Regions from separate parts of the Homo sapiens genome. Here region 1 is linked to region 2. Evidence: fine-mapped expression QTL. A gene starts in region 2. The other region holds a variant in brackets. All regions are shown on one strand. Distances are from middle to middle.

What was found. PIP is the estimated chance that this variant, and not a neighbour inherited with it, causes the effect. A credible set is the group of variants that fine-mapping cannot tell apart.
Region 1: its variant is the best candidate, but not a certain one, in a credible set for the expression of CADPS2 in pancreas (GTEx, PIP 0.51).

Annotation. Positions count from the first base shown.
Region 1 is chr7:122,624,642-122,627,552 of GRCh38, forward strand. All of the region lies in intron 4 of CADPS2 (calcium dependent secretion activator 2), which reads right to left. Among named protein-coding and RNA genes, the nearest start is that of RNF133, 73 kb to the right of the region's middle. The variant C/CT (reference allele first, on the strand shown) is at 1,540.
Region 2 is chr7:122,885,013-122,887,923 of GRCh38, forward strand. CADPS2 (calcium dependent secretion activator 2) reads right to left here and starts at 1,448. Exons shown (of 30, transcript NM_017954.11): 1 at 987-1,448. The coding sequence starts at 1,325. RefSeq lists an enhancer at 736-785 and silencers at 1,146-1,275, 1,316-1,365, 1,376-1,455, 1,526-1,685, 1,696-1,855.

The DNA of each region.
Region 1 (2,911 bases), 260 kb before region 2:
ATTGGTATTCTCTCTTCCTTTCAATTCAAATATGCCTTTGAGTGGGAGAAAAGGGAGGGAGTCTACAAATAATTCAAGAATTCTTCACAGCCCCAGATTTCTCACAAATATGCCAGCATGTAAGACTCAGTCATTTGATAGACATTCCCTGAGTGTCTGCTATGTGTTCTGCTCCAAGCCCCTGGATAGAACCATGAAGATAATGGACAAAGTCCTGATAGACTTAGTAAACAAGGAAATAATTTCTTCTGATAGAAAGTCATAAGTGGCATGGAGAAAAAGTCTAGAAGGAGGAACACAGAGTGAGTGGTGAGAAGGGTTGCAGCTTTAAACGGGGTGGTAGGGGAAGGTCTCAATGAGCAGATGATGCCCTTTGAGCTAAAAGTGGATAAGGAAGTATGATGATTAATTATTTTTTTTTTTTTTGAGACAGAGTTTCGCTCTTGTTGCCCAAGCTGGAGTGCAATGGCACAATCTCGGCTCACCACAACCTCCGCCTCCCAGTTTCAAGTGATTCTCCTGCCTTAGCCTCCTGAGTAGCTGGGATTACAGGCAGGCGCCACCACGCCCGGCTAATTTTGTATTTTTAGTAGAGACGGGGTTTCTCCATGTTGGTCAGGCTGGTCTCAAACTCCCGACCTCAGGTAATCCGCCCGCCTCAGCCTCCCAAACTGCTGGGATTATAGGCATGAGCCACCGCATCTAGCCCAATTAATTTTGTTTGTCAGTCTGGCTAGGCTATGGTGCCCAGTTGTTGGATCAAACATGAATTTAAATGTTGCTATCAAGATATTCTTTAGACGTGAATAACATTTACAATCAGTAAATTCAGTAAATCGGATCACCCTCCTACATCTGTAGGTAGGTCTCATTCACTCAGCTGAAGGATTTATGACCAAAGGCGAAGGTTTCCTAAAGAAGCAGCAATTTTGCCTCAAGACTAAAACACAGAAACCCTGTCTGAGTTTCTCACCTGCCAGTCCGCCCTACAGATTTCAGACTTAAGACTGTAACATCAACCCTCACCTGAATTTCCAGCCTGCCTACTTGTCCTATGGATTCTGGACTTGCCAGTGCCCACAGCCGTGGGAGCCAATTCCTTGAACGCAATCAATCTCTCTCTCTCTCTCTCCCTGCCCTCCCACACACACACACATATATATACACACATAACATGTATGTATGCATAACATCTACTTTTTAATATTATATACATATTTATTATATCTACCTAGATATTGGTCTAGATATATGAAAATACAGATATAATCTCCTATTGGCTCTGTCTCTCTGGAGAACCTGACTACAGCAGGGAGAAAGCCATGTAAATGTCAGTGGAAGTTCGCTGCAGGTGAAGAGTCAGGGCCAAGACCCTGTGGCAAGGAAAGGCAAGGAGGCCACCATCGCCAAAGTGGATTGAGCAAGGGCAAGAGTTTAGTGGAGGATAAAGTCAGAGGGGTAAAAAAGACCAGATCACACAGGACTGGGGTAACAAAGACCAGATCACACAGGACTTTGCAGGCCATTTTAGGAACTTTT[C/CT]TTTTTTTCTCAGCAACATAGGGAATCATCACAGATTTAGTGCAGAACATCACTGGCTGTTGTGTTAATGAGGACAGGGGTAGAATCCAGGAGACTGGCTAAAAGGACAGAACAATGATCCAGACAAGAGACAAAGATGAATGGACCACAGTGGAAAGGGAAGGATGGTAACAACTGTCACATTCTGGAAATACTGTGAAGGTAAAGATAAAGGATTTCCTGATAAGTTTTGCATGAGGTATGAGAAAAAGGAGTCAAAGATGATTCCAAGTTTTTTGGCCTGAATATCTGGAAGGATTGTACTATCAAGAACTGGCCTGCCCTGACCACTTGACTGAAAACTGTAACCACCCACCACCTCTCTCCTACACTCCTCATCCCACTTTTTCTGATCTATTTTCTAAGTAACAATGATCACCTTCCATAATTCAATTACACGGCATGTTTACTCCTTATTGTGGGGCTATCGCAAATAAAATGTAAGCTCCACCAGGGCCTGGCAGAAATATTTTTGTCTCATTTTATCCCAATGTATCCCAAGTAGCTAAGACTGCACCTGGCTGTATAGTTGGTGTTCAATAAATATTTGGTCAATTAATTTGTGGATAGAAAAAATGAGGCTCGAAAGTGTTAAGTAACGTGCCTACTATTATGTTTAGAAAATAGCTATCATGAATTTGGTCACAGGTCTTTCTGGCCCTGTACACATTTTGTTCACTACTTCCTAATTACCTCTTGGCTGAAGTACTAAAGTCAACATGTCTCTTGAAACAGAGATTTTGCCCTGTAGTTTCACTGTTATTATATTGTGTTGTTCTGTGAAGTGTGGGAGGGGGTGTTCCTGAATGCCAACTAATAGCTGTTTATTAACCACTCTTCTGGAATGATCAGATTGCAGAGGCAGCAGGATGTTAAGAGAGCGAGCCCAGGCTCTGGAAGCAAGGCCAGGATTTGAGGCCTGCCTCAGCCACTTATTTGTTATGTAATCATGGTGAAATAAATAATCTTGTCTAAGCCTCAATTTCCTCTTCTATAAAATTGACTTCATGATATCATCTGCCCTTACAAGGTTTGTAGGATTATTGTCAGAAAATAATTCAGCAAGGTCAGTCAATTGTTATTAGGCTTAAAAATATTTCATTAAGACGGCTTCACTTTGGTGAACTTGAAGTGGAAAGCAATTAAACCTGCTCAATCTATGTCAATATTTTCATCAAAAGGTATCCTATTTTTAGAGGTATATTTTGCTTTCCAACCCCATCAGCTTTACTTCTTTCTCCATGTTTTTTCCACTCTATCAACATCTCTGATGAAACCATTAGGGTTCTCTCAAGGAGAAGCCTTTGTGTGTTCATCACTAACCCTTTCTTCT
Region 2 (2,911 bases):
TACAATCTCTCTGGATCTCTAGGTCTTGTCACAAACTGAGGGAACTGTTACCGATTTCTACAGAACCTTCCAGGTTCAGCATTCTATTAAAAAGATTTCCTAGAGTTTGTATTGTAAACATTTAACCACTTAGGACAATTTGAGTCATTACTCGTGTCTGGTACAGAACATCAGGCCCCTGGGGTCTTGTTTTGAAACTCAAGTTGGCCAGCCTTTCACCTGAAACAAACTTCTTACCTTTTGGGGGAGAATAAGCATTTTGTTCCCCAAAAAAGCATTTGGAAAGCATTTGTTATGAAGTGATCATGCACCAATCCTTTATCTTTCATCAGTAATAGTATATTTCATTAATCAGGCCTGCCCAGACCAGAAATTACTTACCCACAAACACTTTACAAAGCTGCATGCCTTCTCGGTGTTTGGATTTGATGTCCTGGTTGTATGACAATATAGGAAACGTATTAATTTAACTTTTTTATTCACTGAGGAAAATTTCTACCCCTCTTAAGTGAAGACTTCACTCTAGCTAAGAGAAGTACTCGGGCTCCACCTGTTTCGCCTAGCTACAACACTCATTCAGACCCTCGGCAAACCCAGCTCTAGCAATATCACGCCAGGCTAGGTGGACAGGAATGCACCAGTGCTGTTGGAAATTAAAGTTGATGGGAGTTGCATTCTAATCCGGCCAGAGCTGCGCCTGCCGGGTGCAACCGCGGCGCGGCCGGCGCTGTCGGTCTCTGTCTCACGGATGGTGAGCTGACAGCTCCTGCCAGCCCAGGCGGGGAGGAGGAGAAGAGGTGTCCGCTGCAGCCGCATACCCGGCGGGTGAAAGCACCGTCTTGTCCCCAAAGATTCCTCTGCCCTCAGAGACTAACAAAAATACGGTGTCCTGCGTTTCGCAGAAGGACGGGAGGCGTCCCAGAGCTCTCCCGGGAGAAAAACCCAGGGAGAAGTGGTGGTAGGAGGCGCCCGGTCCCGCAACTCACCTTCTGCTGCCTCCGGGCCATGTCGGTGGGCTGCTTGGCGTTGAAGGGGTACGCGATGCACCTCACGACGAAGACGTAGAGCTGCAGGCGGATCCTCCGCTCCTGCTCATCGTCCAGCTGCCGCTGGGGCTCGTCTCGCCCCTCGCTGAGCACAGAGGGGCTCGGGCTCACAGATCTGGCCGCGCCGCCGCCGCCCGCGCGCCCCGGCGCGTCCCGCCGCCCTTCCCGAGTCGGGGCTGGAGGAGCTCGCTGCGAGCTGCCGGCTGCCACCAGCACATCGCGGCTTTCCTCTTCCAGCCCCTCGTCCGACTCCTCTTCGCTGGAAGACGGGTCCAGCATGGTGCTCGGGGATCCCCGCCGCTCGGCCCGCGGTCCCCAAGCGCCTCACCCCCGGCGGCTGCGCCCGCGGGTCTGAGGGAGCCGCGGGGCTGGCTGCAGCGGCCGCAGAACGAAAGGAAAACTGGCCAGGGCTTTCCGGACACGTCGAGTTAGATTCAGGAGTGTTTCCTACCACCAGGGCGAAAGGGGCGGGCAGGAGCCGGGAGGAGGATTGGGAGGGGGGAGAGGGGGAGCCGCCGGGACTGAATAGGCGGAGTTAGCGTTGGGGGTGAGCTTGGGCGCCTCAGGAATTGCTCCGCCAGCCCCGGGCGCGCCGACCCAGCGGTTCCCCAGAGCCCGCCGGCAGAGGCGGAGCCGCCCGAGCGCCCGGACGCAGGTGGGGAACCTGTGGCGCCTACAACAAGCAACACGTGGAATTGAATGTTGAAGAGCCGCGCGGGGCCGCGGAGTGCGCGTGCGCGCGCCGCCGCTGCTGCCCGGGCCCGCCTGGAGCCCTAGCACACAGTTTGCAAAGGCGGGGAGCGGCCGAGCGCGATGGCCCGTGTAAGCGTCCACCGGGGCTGCTCCGACTACCCTCACCCTACCACCTGTGATCTTTTCTCCAGCAGGTGGAGGTGGAATGGGGAGCGGGGAGGGACTGTTCCCTAGCAAGAGGTTAGGGGGAGCGGCCGAGACATCTCCCCAACCCGAATCGGCTGCCTAGGATTGAACCCCAGCGCGGAAAAGCGGGACTGGAGCCCTTCACCACGAAGTATCTTTGCGACAAGACTTTGAAAAGTCTCACTCTGCTCTGCTGCCGTTTTGATACTCATGCTGAAGCCCAAATTATAAAAGTCGGAGTAATGAAAAAAAAAAGAAAACCAACGAGGCTTACTTTTTAAACTGTTCTAGTCCTGCAGACTCAAGGCAAGAGAGATTTTATATGTGCAAAATGATACTGATTCAGCTCAAACATATCTCGATTATTTTCTGGGTTGGGATGCAGTTGACTCAAAACAGGTTGTGTAGTGTGGACATTTATTCAACAAAGATTTGAGCGCCCTCCCGGTGTCCAGCACTGTTAGCCTTTTGCGGAGCCCGCGGTGACTAAGGCACATGACACTCAGTCGCTGGTGGTTCTGGCCTCAAGTCGGCGTCTTGTAGCTGCGCTGAAGCCTGCCTTATCTGCGCAGATTTCTCAGTCCTAGTGCTGGAACCACCTAGGAGTTTCTTATAGTAATTCTGTATCTTATGTCCTAAGTCCTGACAGAGGGGGAAATAGGCAAAACAATGCATTCAACACCAGGTGGAGTGTGCAGCGACCAGGTGGGCAGGGAGGTGATGAAGTTCAGTGGAAATAACACAGGGCAAATTAACTACCAGCTCTGAGCTCCTCTACCACCATGGTCAAACAGCAGTTTTAGCTTTTTCAGGCCACTTTCATATAGTTAGGTACACAAGAGAGACTTCTGCACTTACTGACATTCTCTCTAGATGGGTAAAAGACAAGGAGGCATTTACTCCTGAGGAGTCTTACCTATTTTTCTGCCTAATCCATAACAGGCCCCCTAGTAATAAAAGGTCTTCAGTAAGAGCATGGCTGTGGG